2 separate regions of the Homo sapiens genome follow, and region 2 is linked to region 1. Evidence: fine-mapped expression QTL. Tissue or cell type: whole blood. Region 1 holds a variant in brackets; the other region holds the start of a gene. All regions are shown on one strand. Distances are from middle to middle.

The links. PIP is the estimated chance that this variant, and not a neighbour inherited with it, causes the effect.
Region 2: it holds the start of CHRNA10, and the variant in region 1 is fine-mapped to the expression of CHRNA10 in whole blood (TOPMed, PIP 0.95).

Annotation. Positions count from the first base shown.
Region 1 is chr11:3,767,651-3,775,910 of GRCh38, forward strand. It overlaps NUP98 (nucleoporin 98 and 96 precursor), which reads right to left. Exons shown (of 33, transcript NM_016320.5): 5 at 8,232-8,260; 6 at 5,982-6,089; 7 at 4,098-4,278; 8 at 931-1,094. Among named protein-coding and RNA genes, the nearest start is that of NUP98, 26 kb to the right of the region's middle. The variant C/A (reference allele first, on the strand shown) is at 4,520.
Region 2 is chr11:3,666,469-3,674,468 of GRCh38, forward strand. It overlaps CHRNA10 (cholinergic receptor nicotinic alpha 10 subunit), which reads right to left and starts at 4,916. Exons shown (of 5, transcript NM_020402.4): 1 at 4,784-4,916; 2 at 3,328-3,473; 3 at 2,728-2,882; 4 at 764-1,296; 5 at 1-96. The coding sequence starts at 4,844.

The sequences.
Region 1 (8,260 bases):
TCTAATTTTAAGACGAGGTAAATTCCAAGTCCTGATCAATTACTCATACATCACTTCCTTCTTTAATTTCATACTTCCCTAAAAAATGTCCCTAGAAATAAACTAGTAATGACCATGAGGACCTTTTCTTTGGACACAGTATGGCTCTAAGTCGTAGGTCTCCCTTTAAAAAAAAAAAACAAAAAAACTTCTTTGTATGATTCCCAAGGGAACTAGGTGAACGTTCCCTTAGTTCCTGTTGTTGGCTATATTCTGAAATATAGTCAGTAATGAATAAGTATTTTCTCCTATACCCTATAGAATGGCTGTAGTCAATTTTCCAAGGTATAGCTTTAAGAGGGCCAAGTCCAGCCCACTAAGTAGTTCCTACTTAGTAATGAGAAAAATACTTTCAGAAAGGATAAGTGATCGCCTCAATAGCATCTCAACAAGTAAAGAGTAGAGCCCAGGCTAGAATCTAGGTCTTAATTATTCTAAGACTTTGTTCTTGGCCGGGCACGGTGGCTCATGCCTATAATCCCAGCACTTTGGGAGGCCGAGGTGGGCGGATCACGAGGTCAGGAGATCGAGACCATCCTGGCAAACACGGTGAAACCCCATCTGTACTAAAAACACAAAAAATTAGCTGGACATGGTGGTGGACACCTGTAGTCCCAGCTACTCGGGAGGCTGAGGCAGGAGAATGGCATGAACCTGGGAGGCGGAGCTTGCAGTGAGCTGAGACTGGGCCACTGCACTACAGCCTGGGTGACAGAGCGAGACTCCATCTCAAAAAAAAAAAAAAAAACTTTGTTCTCTTCCCTTCATTAAATACCCTCAACTCTTAAGATTTGCAGTACAGGTAGAATTTGCTAGTTTGACATGATTAGAATCCTCATTACTTAACTCTAAAAATAAGACATGGAGGTAAGTAAGGGTCTGTTTCCTTACCATGGTGTTGGTGCTTGGCTGTCCTATGGTGCTGGTATTACCAAAGGAAAAGCCAGTGTTCTGGGTGGTTGTAGCCTGGCCAAATGGTTTGCTGAAGAGGCTGGTAGTCTGCTGATTCTGTTGGCCAAAGAGACCACCTGGATTTGTTCCAAATCCAGTTGTACCTTTTAGGAAAAAGAAAAAAAAAAGAAAAAAGAAATAATAAAAAAAATGTAAACACCCAAAAATACAAAACCTTCCATTATCCAGTTGTTGTAATAGTCTTTATGTTATCTACTACCCTTCATTCACTACTTGATCATCTTTTCGTTTTCCATCCTTCACTTAACTCTAGATTTAAACTTTAACTTCTGTAATAACATCCTTACCCCAAGAAGCTTAACTAGGCTAAATGATCTTCCCTTGTAAGTCCACAGCTTCCTTCTGTTTTACAAGATAATACACTAGAAGTCAGCATGTGTATTTTAACCTTGCTAGTCTAGGTTAATGAGAACAAAGGCTTCTTCTTTACATGAATATATCCAGCCCAGAGTCTGATATGTAATATTCAATAATGAATATGGGCCAGGCACAGTGGCTCACACCTGTAATAACAACATTTTGGGAGGCCAAGGCAGGAGGATCACTTGAGGACAGGAGTTCCTGAACAGCCTAGGCAACACAATGGGACCCCATCTCTACAAAAAAATTTTAAAAATTAGTCAGGCTAATGGCACTTGCCTGTGGTCTTAGCTACTTGGGAGACCGAGGTGGGTATATGGCTTGAGCCTGGGAGTTTGAGGCAGCGGGGAGCTGTGATGGAGCCACTGCACGACAGCCTGGGTGACAGAGCTAGACAGTGTCCTCCAACCCCCACCAAAAAAACAGAAAAAATTATGAAACATTAGCCAGGCAGAATGGTGGGAATATTACTTGGGCCCAAGAGTTCAAGGCTGCAGTGAGCTATGATTGCTCCACTGCACTCCAGCCTGGTCAACAAAGTGGGATTCTGTCTCAAAAAAAAAAAAAAAAAAAAAAGCATACTAAACTAAATCATGGAATATCAAGATTGAAAAGTACGTTAGGCTGGACATGGTGGTTCACACTGGGAGGCTGAGACGGGTGATCACCTGAGATCAGGAGTTCGAGACCAGCATGGCCAATATGGTGAAACCCCGTCCCTGCTAAAAATTAGGGCTGGACGGCCAGCCATGGTGGCTCATGCCTGTAATCCCAGCACTTTGAGAGGCCGAGGCGGGTGGATCATAAGGTCTGGAGTTCAGATCAGCCTGGCCAAGACGGTAAAACCCCATCTGTACTAAAAATACAAAAAAATCAGCCAGGCATGGTGGTGGGCATCTGTAATCCCAGCTACTTCAGATGCTGAGGCAGAGAATCGCTTGAACCCAGGAGGTGGAGGATGCAGTGAGCCGAGATCACACCACTGCACTCCAGCCTGGGTGACAGAGCGAAACTCCATCTCAAAAAAAAAAAAAACAATTAGGGCTGGCACCATGGCTCACGCCTATAATCCCAGCGCTTTGGGAGGCCGAGGCTGGTTAATCGCCTGAGGTCAGGGGTTCGAGACCAGCCTGGCCAACATGGTGAAACCCCAACTCTATTAAAAATATAAAAAATTGGCCAGGCATGGTGGCGGGTGCCTGTAATCCCAACTCCTTGGGAGGCTGAGGCAGAAGAATCGCTTGAACCTGGGAATTGGAGGTTGCACTGCACTCCAGCTTGGGCAACAGTGAGACTCCGTCTCAAAAAAATAAAATAAAATTAGTCGGGTGTGGTGGCACATGCCTGTAGGGTGGCTGAGGTAGGAGAATCACCTGAGCCCAGGAAATCAGGGCTGTAGTGAGCCCTGATCACATCACTGCACTCCAGCATGAGTGACGGGAGTAAGACCCTAAAACCCTGTCTCAAGAAAAGAAAAGAAAAGAAAAGAAAAAGTAGGTTAAATATAACTTAGATAAATACGTATTTGTGTGTGTGTGTGTGTGTGTGTGTGTATGTACATCTCTTTAGAAGGCTATGAAAAGCTATAATTTTTGCTTTTCTCTACAGAGGCAAACTGGTGGCTGGGGAAAGTGTATAAGGCAAGTATATAACCTCTGGTTATTTAGTTTTCTGTATTTTGTGAACTTTGTATCACATATGTGCATTACTTTTGCAAAAGTAGTATTTTTGTCAAGTAATCATCATCTTTAACTCCTCTTTCACATCCCACATTAAACCAATGCATCGGCAAATTCCATCAGTTCTATAATCAAACTGGGTCCAGAACCTCATCTTTTTTCTTTTCCGTCCTTTTTATTTAGAGATGGAGTCTTGCTGTCACCCAGGCTGGAGTGCAATGGTGTGATCTCAGATCACTGCAACCTCTGCCTCCCAGGTTCAAGCGATTCTCCTGCCTCAGCCTCCCAAGTAGTTGGGATTACAGGTGCTTGTCACCACGCCTGGCTAATTTTCATATTTTTAGTAGAGGCAGGGTTTTACCATGTTGGCCAGGCTAGTCTTGAACTCCTGACCTCAAGCAACCCACCTGCCTTGGCCTCCCAAAGTGCTAGGACTGCAGGCGTGAGCCACCACACTTGGCCTCTTTTCCATCCTTGTCCAAGACACTAACACCTCTTATGTTGATAATAGCTTTCTAAGTAATTTGTTTCTACTCTTACAATCTACTGTCAATATAGGAGACTTCAGAATCATCCTTCACTCACAATCACATGACTTCTCTTTCAAAACAACTTTCAGGATTTCCTAAATCAAATAAAAATTCAAGTCTTGATATTGGCCTACAAAGTCGTATAAAATATGGCCCCTATATCCCCCAGTATTTTCCCTTGCCCTCTCTTCAAATGGCAAAAACTCAGAGTTTTTAGACTCAGTTTCCACTAGCTGGAATGTTCTTCCCCCAGAAATCTGTACAACTTGCTCCTTCATCTTCTTCAGATACGTCACTGCTCAAACATCACCTTCTCCTCTGAAGCATTCCTTAGTCGTCTTCATCTTAAACTGTCTTTCTCCCTTTCCCCACATACATCCAGGCATTCCTCCCTATTCCTATGGTATCCCTGAATTATTATTTTTCTCCATAGCACTTATCCCAAAATGGCAATTATGTTTTAGTTTTAGTTATCTGTCTCTCCTCAGTATAATCTAACATGATATCAAGTGCTTACTAGTTCCAAAGGCAGTTTTGTTCTGACCATATGCAAAGCCTGAATTAGTGGTGGAGGAGCTGAAGAGTCCTGTTGCGCTGGAAGTGGCTGGAGAAGACCCAAACAAGCCAGTTGTGGTACCTGCTCCCACCTGGTTCTGTGGGCCCTTCCTGTTAGCCTGATAATCCTCTAAACGAAGTTCCTGAAGGGAGGGAAAACATATTTCTAATCTTAACATGCAGCTAAAAATAATTATTTAGGAGGCTAAATACTTGAATTTAGTATTCAAGTTCTATGTTCACATAGGAACCATAACTAAAAAAGAGAAAACTAAGGAATGACATTATATCATTACAGAAAAACATTTCCAATAGACACTAAAATCCATACCATAATTATCATAAAACTACAAGCCAAAGAGTCAATATCTTAATCTCAGTTTT[C/A]TTTCACAAACAATACACTCTTTTGGTAAAATGTCATAAAATAATCCTAACTCTCCCCAGCCCTAAAATATAAAAATAAAATAAAAATAAAAATTATAGTGAATTAACATATGTAGATTCTGTGGGGCAAAAAATTTAGAAAATAAAGTTTATCAATTTTGTCTCAAGTCCGGATGTTCCTGGCACAGCCCAATAAAGTAAGCATAGTTTGGTATGTAGAAAGAAGCAATCACTATAATCATGAATGACTATCAAAATGTACAACAACCTACTACATAAGCAATAAGAATGAACAAACTAACTTCATGCAACAACATGGATGACTATCTCAATGTTCAAAGACAGCCATTAAAAAGTACATAATGTGCCTGGGTGCTGCAGCTCATGCCTGTAATCCCAGCACTTTGGGAGGCTGAGGTGGACGGATCACAAGGCCAGGGTTCAAGAACAGCCCGGCCAACGTAGCAAAATCCCATCTCTACTAAAAATACAAAAATTAGCTGGGCATAGTGGCGTGCAGCTGCAATCCCAGCTACTCAGGAGGCTGAGGCAGGAGACTGCTTAAATCCAGGAGGCAGAGATTGTAGTGAGCTGAGATCACGCCACTGCACTCCAGCCTAGGCAACAGAGCAAGACTCGTCTCAAAAAAAAAAAAAAAATTAGCTGTGTGTGGTGGCCCACACCTGTAATCCAAGCTACTAGGGAGGCTGAGGCACGAGAATTGCTTGAACCTAGGAGGTGGAGGTTGTAGTGAGCCAAGATGTGCCACTGCACACCAGACTGGGTGACGGAGTGAGATGCTGTCTCAAAAACAAACAAACAAAAAAAACAAAAAAAAACCAACTTTTATTAAGCTGTACTTTGCATAATTTTACTAAAAACACCTTCATATGCATGCATACACATTGCCCAGTGTAACAGAAGCAACATCCAATCAGAACAGATGATTAGACTGGGCTCAGTGGCTCATGCCTGTTATCCCAGCACATTGGGAGGCTGAGGAAGAAAAATCGCTTGAGCTCAGGAGTCTGAGACCGGCCTGAGCAACATAGTGAGACCTCACCTCTACAAAAAAATTTTTAAAAATTAGCTGGGCGTGGGGCACATGCCAGTGGTCCCACCTACTTCGGAGGCTAAGGACATGAAGCCTGGGAAGCTGAGACTGCAGTGAGCTGTGATTGTGTCACTGCATTCCAGCCTGGGCAAAAAAGCCCATCTCAAAAAAAAAAAAAGACCATTAGGGGTGCTAGACCTTCACATACCCCTGAATATTATCCCTGCCTAAACAAGTAGATATCTATAAATAATACTTGATTTTTAAAAATAATTTGGTTAATGTTAATTTTTTACATAAACCCAAACTGAACCACTCTATCCTAAAGAAAATCAAAACCATTTTTAAAAGCTGCATTCCAATAAAATCAAAAGGTTAGACTGACATTCTGTATTGTATTTTACTGACCTCTAGTGACTTGCTTTCATATTCTTTCATAGCAGTAATACACTGGTGCTTGGTACTTATGTTAGTGCTAACTCCAGCTTTGACCATAGTATCTGTACCAGTTGGAGGCTGCAAAGTTAAATAAAGGCAAATTTGTAGGTCCAAGTTTTACATTCCTACTCTCTCAGATACAATTTCTCAACCACTGAACTCTAAAACTAGTCCCCCCAGGTCTTTTATACTGAGATGGTTTCAAGGGTGCTTGATTAAATATACTGCCATTTCTGATCTCTCCCTACATCAAGGTTATCTGAATAAATCGATCTTAGTAACAAAGTAATCACAAACGCAGGGATTAATCCCATAACCCAAGCCATCCAATTACATGGTAAAATACATGTAATATTATGCATAAAGAAAGCTTTACCCAATATATACCTTTAAACCTCTATATCTAAGTTCTCCTTTCTACTCCGCCCTGTAATGCTGCATTAAAAAAATACGGAGGGCCAGGAGCGGTGGCTCACGCCTGTAATCCTAGCACTCTGGGAGGCCGAGGCGGGTGGATCATGAGGTCAGGAGTTCGAGACCAGCCTGGCTAATATGGTGAAACCCCGTCTCTACTAAAAAATAAAAAAATAAAAAATAAAAATGAGCCAGGCGTGGTAGCGTGCACCTGTAGTCCCAGCTACTCAGGAGGCTGAGGCAGGAGAATCGCTTGAATCCGAGAAGCGGAGGTTGCAGTGAGCCAAGACCGTGCCACTGCACTCTGGCCTGGGCGACAGAGTGAGACTCCATCTCAAAAAACAGCAACAACAAAAAAACAGAAACTGGCCAGGCGCAGTGGCTCACACCTGCAGTCCCAGCACTTTGGGAGGCCGAGGCGGGTGGATCACTTGAGGTCAGGAGTTGAAGACCAGCCTGGCCAACATGGTGAAACCCCATCTCTACTAAAAATACAAAAATTAGCTTGGGTGGGTGCCTGTAATCCCAGCTACTTGGGAGGCTGAGGCAGCAGAATCGCTTGAACCAGGAGGCAGAGGTTGCAGTGAGCCAAGATTGCACCACTGCGCTCCCGTCTGGCTGACTCTGTCTCCAAAAAAAAAAAAGAAATATGGAAACCTGTTTTTCCCCGATAACATTACAAGGAAAAAGGCACAATAAGTAAAACTAACGATTCCTGCTGGTATTGCCAGTTTTCTCAACTACTGCACTTTCCAAAGGGCATCACACAGTATTCTTCACTATCATTTTATGTTTTAACTTCAAATTCGGGGTTGTAAATTTAGTACTATGAATTAACCAATTTACCTGACAAATTCTTCATTTTCTGGAGTATATTTTAACAAGTTTTATTTCTGCCAAAGATTTCCATTAGGCTAACTGCACCTCCAGCATACCCTAAGAATCCCCCAAACATTTACATCAAGTGGCATTCCACATGTTTCTGTAAACAAAATCCTCCACTCTAGCCCTCCACCCAATCCCTCTCAAAAAAAGAACACATACACAATAAACTTTACAGCCCCATTTAGCCATTTCATCAACAAAACCTGTATTTTTCAGTGGGTACAGAATGCTGATGAGTTACTCTTATTTGCCCCCTATTCTTTATTCCCATAAAGATTAGTTGACCAGGCCGGGCATGGTGGCTCATGCCTGTAATCCCAACACTTTGGGAGGCAGAGGTGGGCAGATCACCTGAGGTCAGCAGTTCGAGACCAGCCTGGCCACCATGGTGAAACGCCATCTCTACTACAAAAAACTACAAAAAAATTAGCTGGGTATGGTGGTGGACTCTTGTAATCACAGCTACTCAGGAGGCGGAGGCAGGAGAATCACTTGAACCCAGGAGGTAGAGGTTGCAGTGAGCTGAGATTGCACCACCACACTCCAGCCTGGGCAACAAGAGCGAAACTCCATCTTAAAAAAACAAAATAACAAAAAAAAAAAAGAAAATTGAACAGTTGACCATTCAGAAGCAAATTCTTAACACAGTAAATTCAAATTCTACCTTACACCAGATTATAATAAAGTTTTATGAATACAAATTTTATTGGGATGAGCCTAATTCAAATATACATCGTAATCTAGATTTACATTTCACAAGTGTTCCTGTCTACTATACAACTATTTATAGATTTTGTTTTTAACACATCGTTCAGGCAGTGTCAAGCTAAGCTGGAAAGAGAAGCAATTTTACAATTCATCCTGCAAAGAAATATACATGCGGGAAAAAACATTCCACAAAGATTGGAAGAAAATACATACGTTAAATTTAATAGTAGTCCCAGTAGGAG
Region 2 (8,000 bases), 100 kb before region 1:
GGCGGACACTGGGACCACAGTAATGCAGGTTCATGATAAGGATGGTGAGTGCTGTTGAGAATGTGACCATGGTCATAGTGGCCATGTAGTACTTCCCTGCAAGAGAGAGAGAAAGCCAATTGACTCAAAACAAAAGCCTGTGGTTCCTGAGCTTCCCAGCCACCTCTGCACAAATGGAAATAAGCCCACCATGAAGCTCTCCAGACCCTCCAAGCCCCATGGATGGAAGCAGGAAGGAGGTAAGGGCCGAGTTCTCCCCATCCTTCATTCCTACACGTGGGTCATCGGAAGCTACTGCTCTCTAATTGCTCCCGTCACTGCTGGAGGCTGCACTCATACACAATCCAGGACAGTCCCGCTCTCAAATAACGACGGGCATGAGCTGGGGCAAGATACGAATCCTTTTTGTACAAATGGGATACCCAGAGGACCTACTTCCTAGGTTTGTGGTGATGCTTACCTGAGTTAATAAAGGTCAAGTGCTTAGGGGAGTGCCTGGCACACAGCAAGCAGTCGACAGATTTTGCCTATCATTAGGATCTGGGGATACTGATGTTCCATCATCAAGGGCCAAGTCGTGAGGGGTGTTCTCCCTGGAAGGAGCTAATCCTTTCCCCTCAGTCTTAAAATGAGGGCACGTTCCCAGGACGCCCCCCTCTCACTTTCTGCAGTGGGGCCGTTCCGCAGACCCAGGCCCTGTCGCGGCCCCGCCCTGGGGGGACCCCAGCGCATCGTCAGGTCCCCCCGCGCCCCCGCTGCTCACCGATGAGCGGCACGCTCTCGGCCGGTGGCATGCTCTCGGCCAGCAGCAACTGGAAGACGGTGAGCGCCAGCAGCACGGTGACGCCCAGCGACACCTTCTCGCCTGAGTCGGCAGGCAGGTGGAAGGCGAGCGGCGCAAGCAGCGAGATGAGCACGCAGGGCAGCAGCAGGTTGCACACGTAGGCGGCGGCGCGGCGGCGCAGCAGCAGCGTGAAGGTGACGTCGGGGTAGGGCTCGGAGCAGCAGCCGTAGGTGAGCACGCGCCGCCGCGCCGGCATGCCCAGCACGCGCCACTCCACGTTCTCCACGAAGTCCGCCAGGCTGGCTGCAGCGCCGCGCGGCCGCACATCCAGTTGGTGCCCGCCGTGAGTCCAGGAGCCGAACGTCAGGCCGCAGTGCTGGGCGTCGAACGGGAAGGCTGCTACATCCACGCGGCACGAGCTGCGCGTGATGGCCGGCGCGTCCCAGCGCACGGCGCCATCGTGGCGCAGGACCACGTTGGTGCTGGCGGAACCTGGAGGCTGCGCGTCGGCTCTGGGGGCAGGCGGGGCAGGGCTCACCTAGGCTGTCCAGCCTGAGGAGCAGCCCCGGAGGCCGGGAGCCCAGGGCAGACCCCCAGGGGCTGAAAGAAACCAAAACTTCTCCCCAGAATATTGAGGCTCGTTAAGTTCGAGACACTCACGACGCAGGGGAGCACCTGGCCCCAGCGTCTGCTGGCCTGATGGCAGGACATCAGCCCTTCCTTGCTGGAGTCAGCACTTGCTTATCCAAAGGGCACCAGTAGGTGCCAGAGGAATCTGGAAACAGATTTTACCCTCTTTCCACGTTTTCCCGCCTTTTAAAGGTGGCTGTCCTTTGTCTTGCCACTATTTATAACTTACTGGCTCTTTCTTGAATTTCTATTTAAGCAAGGCCCCTAAGTCACTGCCTTCAGAGAGAAATACTTTTGAACTAAGGCCTCTCCCATGATGGGTACAGCAGATTAATAAACTTCTGCTTGTGGCTGGGTGCGGTGGCTCACGCCTGTGATCCCAGCACTTTGGGAGGCCGAGGTGGGCGGATCACGAGGTCAGGAGATCGAGACCACCCTGGCTAACACGGTGAAACCTCGTCTGTACTAAAAATACAAAAAACTAGCTGGGCGTGGTGGCGGGTGCCTGCAGTCCCAGTTATTTGGGAGGTTGAGGCAGGAGAATTGCGTGAACCCGGGAGGCGGAGCTTGCAGTGAGCCGAGATAGCGCCACTGCACTCCAGCCTGGGCGACAGAGCGAGACTGTGTCTCAAATAAATAAATAAACTTGTGCTTGTTTTTTTTTCGTTAATTTGATTCTTGTTTTCAGAACAAAGCAACACAGAGGGTGGAGTGCACCTAGAGAGACCCGCTGCCTTTCGAGGCCTGGAAGGGGTGGTGCCTGAAGGGCCCAGAAGGGACACAGACGTAGCCAGAGGATGTATAAAAAGGCCTCTGCAGAACCCAGAGGTAGCTCCGGGACACACAGTGACTTCCCTTGGGGGACATCTGCAAAACTTGTAGAAGGGCCCCAGAGAAAATATGCAGAGCTATGTGCTGGCTGGGAGACACGGAACTGGTCAAGGAGACATAAAGCAGTGTTCCAGAGGGCTATGTCCTGGAGGAAAGAGACCCTTACACAGGCTCTTCGGGGAGCCCTGAGAGACTTAGAGCTAAAAGTGTGCCCTAGAGAGGCCCTTGTGATTCAGACAACTGCCCTGGACCACACAGTAGGTTCCGAGGAGACGTTCAGCCTGGGCTGGCCTGGGATAGCCTAAAGTGGGGGTGCCATGGAGGGGCTGAGTGCCTGGCAGCTTAGAAGGGTCCTGGGGAAAAGCTTCCAGGGCAGCGTGGCAACCAGGTTATGTGGTAGGGAGAGGGGATCACTACACCCCCACAGCTAAGGGCAAGTCTAGAGAGGGGTAAGAGAGAGGAGGGGCCCAGATAGGCAGTACTTGTTATAGAGTACGATGTCTGGCCGCCACACAAGACTGCTGGGGATGCGGATGGCATCCAGGCCACCATAGGCATTGGGGTCCCATCGTAGGTAGGCATCTGTCCACTCCTGCCGTATCCACAGATACAGGGTCAGCACCTGGTTCCGTTCATCCTAGTGGGGGCAGGGAATGGCAGAGATGTGGACATGTATATGCATATCCTGCCCTGTCTGTGCACACTCCCCTGCAGGGCTCTGGTCAGCACCCACAAACCTGACTTGTCCATACCGTCCAGTTCCCACCCAGACCTGACCTTGCCATGTGACCTTAGTGGGCTCTTCTCTTTTCTGCCCCTGTTTCCTCAGCAGGAATATGGGGTGAGAATCCCTGCTTAGCAGGGATTCAGTAAGTTCAGGTGAACAAAATATTGGGCACGAGGTAGGCACCCAATACTCAGTACCCAACAGTCAGTACCCAACAGTTTGTAACTGCTACCTTTGTTAATATTAACATTTACAGAAAAGAAATTCCATGGAGAATAATCCCAGTCTCTCACCCCTTCATTTCTTGACACTGTGACAGGTAAGACTCCACAGCTGTACCACCACCACAACGCACCATGTCGATGATCTGGGACAGTGTCACCTCCAGGGTCACATTCAGAGTCTGGTCTGTGTCTGCCACAGGTCTCAGGGCACTTGTGTAGTTGGCAAAGAGGTCACGGAACAGCTTGAGAGCCAGCCGGCCCTCAGCTCCCAGGCACTCTGGAGGGTCAGTAAGGAGGGTTGTCCATCCCAGGCCCTAGTCCCAGGGCCTCTGCTCACACCCTCCACTCCCAGGGCTGGGGCCCTGTCCTTATGAGTGTCCTCCTGGTGTCTGCCTTCTCTTGCTCTAGCTGTGGCTCTAGTTCCTCCCTGGCCTGCCTGCAGGGACACATGAGGTAAAGGCCATGGAGTGAACTGGTACTATCTTCTGGCGCCAGGCTGACAAATTTCTCCTCCACCCTCCCCTTTTCAAGGACCTGGAGTCTGCCTGCCTCTCCACAAATGCTAGAGGGGCCCAAATAAGCCACAAGAGTCCAGACTTTCACCCAGGGATTCTAAACCCCACTGCTCTGCCCCCTCCAGTATCTCTCAAACCTGTTTCCACTTCTCCATCTCGAGCTGGTTTCTTCAAAACTTCTGATGCGATGGAACACTCCCTCACTCTGAAAACACACTTCCCCAGGCTTTACTGACACAAATTTTCCTCAATCCCTGACCTAAACATTGTTCCCATGAATCCTGTCCTTGGCTCCCATCTTTTTCTTCATCCCAGATTTTTCTCCTGAGCTCCAGACCCCAATAGAGTACAGTCCACTCCTGAGTTTCCCACAGGCACCTTCAACTCTGAGGGTCCAAAATATGAACTCGCTTCCTCCCTCCATGCTCTGAAACCTGCTTCCTATCCCATGTTCCCTATCTCAGCAAATAGCATGCCCTCAGCTTCAACAGTGACCTTAGTTGGAAATCTGGGAATTATCCCTCCCTTCTCCCTCTGCTGCCTCCTCCTCGGGGAATCCAGTTAATCTCCAGATCCTGTCAGATCATTCAAATCCTCCAGATTTTGCGAAACATCGTCTTGAGTCTACCCTCTCCCCTCCAGGTCAGGGCCCTCCCTTCACTGTCTCCCTTTCCCCAAAGGCTCACCTTCTTCTACCCCTCCCATGCCCCAGGACCACGCTTTTAAGCATGCACATCTGACCAGGCTAGTATGCTGCTGAAACCTTTCAGTGCTCCCCGTCATCTGCAGGAGAAAGACCTGGCCTGGCCGGCAGGCCCTTCAACATCTGGCCCCTCTGATTTTCCCAGCCCTGTCTCTGGAAGCTCCCCGCTCACTGTTTCCACCCTAGCCAGGCAAGTCTCCTCTCACGCACTTCAGCACCCCTCTCCTCCACACTCCCCAAATAGAGAGCTTGTTCTCAGAACAGGTACTGAGGAGAAACACAAGAGAGACTACATGGAAAGGGATTTTGGGAGAACAGGAATAGTAGCACCACCAGGAGAGGCCAGGGCTGGTGTACTGAGCTTCATACCTGCAGGGAGTAGAAACAGAAGCAGAAGGCCCAGGCTGAGGTGGTGGCTCCGGAGCCCCATGGCCCTGGCACTGCAAGAGCGGGGGCAGGTCTCTGGATGTGAGGCCTCCTGGCCAGACCTAGGGCAAAATTAGGCCCAGCTGGCAAGGATGGTGTGGACAGTACCTAGAAGTCAGAAGTAAGACAGATCTCTGGTGGGTCCAGCCACCCTCCAGCGAGCCCTGCAGCCCCTCCAGTCTTCTGACCCTCCAATTTGTGCCTGCCCCTGGATTTTAGTACTTGGTCTTTCTTCTTCTCTGCTGGTCCTTGCCTCTTCTGGCCTCTGCCTCTGCCCTTTCCTATGCTCCCCACCTGCTTTGTCTTTCACTCTGTTTCTGCTTCCTTCTCTTTCCGTCTGTAACTTTCTTGGTCTCTCTGCCTCCCTGACTCTGATCATCCCCTGCCTGCCTCTTTCCACTCTCTCTCCCTTTCTCCTACTTCTGTTTCATCCCTCATTCCTTCCTTCTTCCATTCCCCACACCTGGACTCTAGATGGGCCTGCTGCTCTCTCAGCAGAACAGGGACCAGGGACTCCTCCCTTGATCAGCCCAGAGTCGTCCGAGGCACAGGACCACAGCCCCTCCCTCTCTGCCCTTTCATTAGCTTAATTACACCGTGCCTATGACAACAGAGCAACGGAAACTGATACCTCGGGCCTCTGGGGCTTGAATTATTCAAACTCTGTAAAGCAGCACACAGACTCAGCTCAGGCCCATCCTCGGGTGTTGGAGAGTACAGGTATGCTGGGTCAGGGTATGTGGAAGACCAGGGCTTAAGAGTGTGAGGGGCCAGGGTCAGTGGATGGATAACTGTCCTCTCATCTTAGCCACCATTGCCTGAATTCTGGAGGTGGAGGTTTGCCTTAGACCTGCAGCTCTCCTTGCAGTGCGGGACTAGACACTCCAGGCTAGGCACTTTGGGTCAAGCAAGCCCTTCCCTCCTGGTGGGAGTAGTGCTGAGCCTCAGGCCACTCCAGATGACCCAGTGGAGCAGAAGATGGAGCCCACATCCTCTCCTCAGACTCCCTGCAGTCATTCCCATCTGAGCCTGTTTTTTCACCTTGCCCAAACACTGTGGGCAGTGTGGGAGAAGAGGGCAAGCATTCAGTCACTTTCGGCCCTGTCTTATGAGCGCTCTCACTTGGGTAAGATATTTAAACTCTCTGGGTTTCTGTTCTCTCAATCTGGTAATGGGATTAACAGTACTCATCTTGAAAACTGCAAGGATTTAAATGAGATAACCTGATAGTGCAAGGCACTGTCTAGCACGGTGCCTAAGGTACAGCAGGTCATCAACAATATTTACACTGTGGTCCCAGTAAGGTAGCCAGGCTATCCTCAGGTCACAGGTATTTATCATGCACAGAGTTTTGATTATTTTTGTTCAAGCTGACCAGTTGCCTGACCAACAGCAGCACATACTTCCCTGGCAATCACATCCATAGCCATGACTTTGGGCATCGTGGATATGCCAGTGATTCCCTGCACTTTCTCCACCCGTCCCCTCTCCCAGGTACTCTGCTTATCTCCAACCACCTTCCTAACACACAAGCGTTTCACATCATTTCAAATTGAAATCCAACATTCACTTATTCAAGCTAGTAGAGGGGAACTGTCCTTAACTTGTTAAAGAACAACTACCAAAATACCCTACAGCCATCCTGCCACCTCAGCCTCCTGAATAGCTGGAACTAAAGGTGCACACCACCCAGCTAATTTTTGTTCATTTTTTAAGAGACAAGGTCTCCCTATGTTGCCTAGGCTGGTCTTAAACTCCTGGGCTCAAGGGATTCTCCCTCCTCAGCCTCCCGAGGTGCTGGGATTACAGGCGTGAGCCATCGTGCCCAACCAATACAAGGTTTAACAAATCCTTAGGAAAGCCTAAGAAATGAACATTTAAAGCAGAAATTAAGATTATACAGAACTCCAGTAAAATTGATTAATACGTCTAAGGACTGGTTATTTGAATAACAAAAAATCTGGAACAATTTTCTGGAAATACAAATTAACAAAACTGAGCTAAAGATGAAACATCTAAAAAGAGCAGATACTCTGCAGGCCTTTGCTTAATTATTCCAATATTTAATTCTCCAGACCTCTGTTAACTTTGGGTTCTGTTGAGAAAATAAGTTATTTGAATGTTGTAGATTCCACAGATCTATCGAATGTTGAGGTAACTGGTTCCTGTTTTATGTTTTTGAGAATTTTTTTTGAAATTAAAACATTTTTTACTATTTCAACGGGATTTTGGGATGTGGAAGAGATTGTTCAGGCCTGGCGCGGTGGCTCACGTCTGTAATCCCAGCACTTTGGGAGGCCAAGGCAGGCTTATCACGAGGTCAGGAGATCGAGACCATCCTGGCTAACACGGTGAAACCCCGTCTCTACTGAAAATACAAAAAAAAATTAGTCGGGCATGGTGGCGGGTGCCTGTGGTCCTAGCTACTTGGGAGGCTGAGGAAGGAGAATGGCATGAACCCGGGAGGTGGAGCTTGCAGATCGTGCCCCACTGCACTCCAGCCTGGGGGACAGAGCGAGACTCTGTCTCAAAAAAAAAAAAAAAAAAGAAGAGATTGTTCATCACCCTTATCTTGAACTGGAAGTTGATATTCTCTTTTATGCACAACATGGCTTCTATGATAAACCTTTGATTGAGAACCTTTTTTTTCTTGCTCTGTTGCCCAGGCTGGAGTGCAGTGGCACAATCATGGCTCGCTGCAGCCTTCAGCTCCTAGGCTCAAGCGATCCTCTTGCTTAGGCCTCTTGAGTAGCTGGGACTATGCACACACACCACCATGCCCAACTAATTTTATTTTTTTTTAGAGACAGAGTCTTGTCATGTAGCCTGGGGTGGTCTTGAACTCCTGGCCTCAAACGATCCTCCCACCTTGGTCTCCCAAAGTGCTGGGATTACAGGTGTGAGCCACCACTCCTGGCCCACAATTCCGAACACTGCTAAGAGCTAACCATTTCTATAGCATACTCACTTTCTGAAACATTCCTCTGGTAAGGAAACCAGGTCAGGTGTTCTTTGCTGGAAGTCCAACTATGTTTTGTGACTCACTCAGGTTCACATAGTGAGTCAGTAGTGGAGGGGATTCCAGCTGAGTAACCCCTATCCTGAGGCATCTAAGTTAAATGGAAGTTCCAGACAACAGAGCTGACCCACTCTGCTTTCT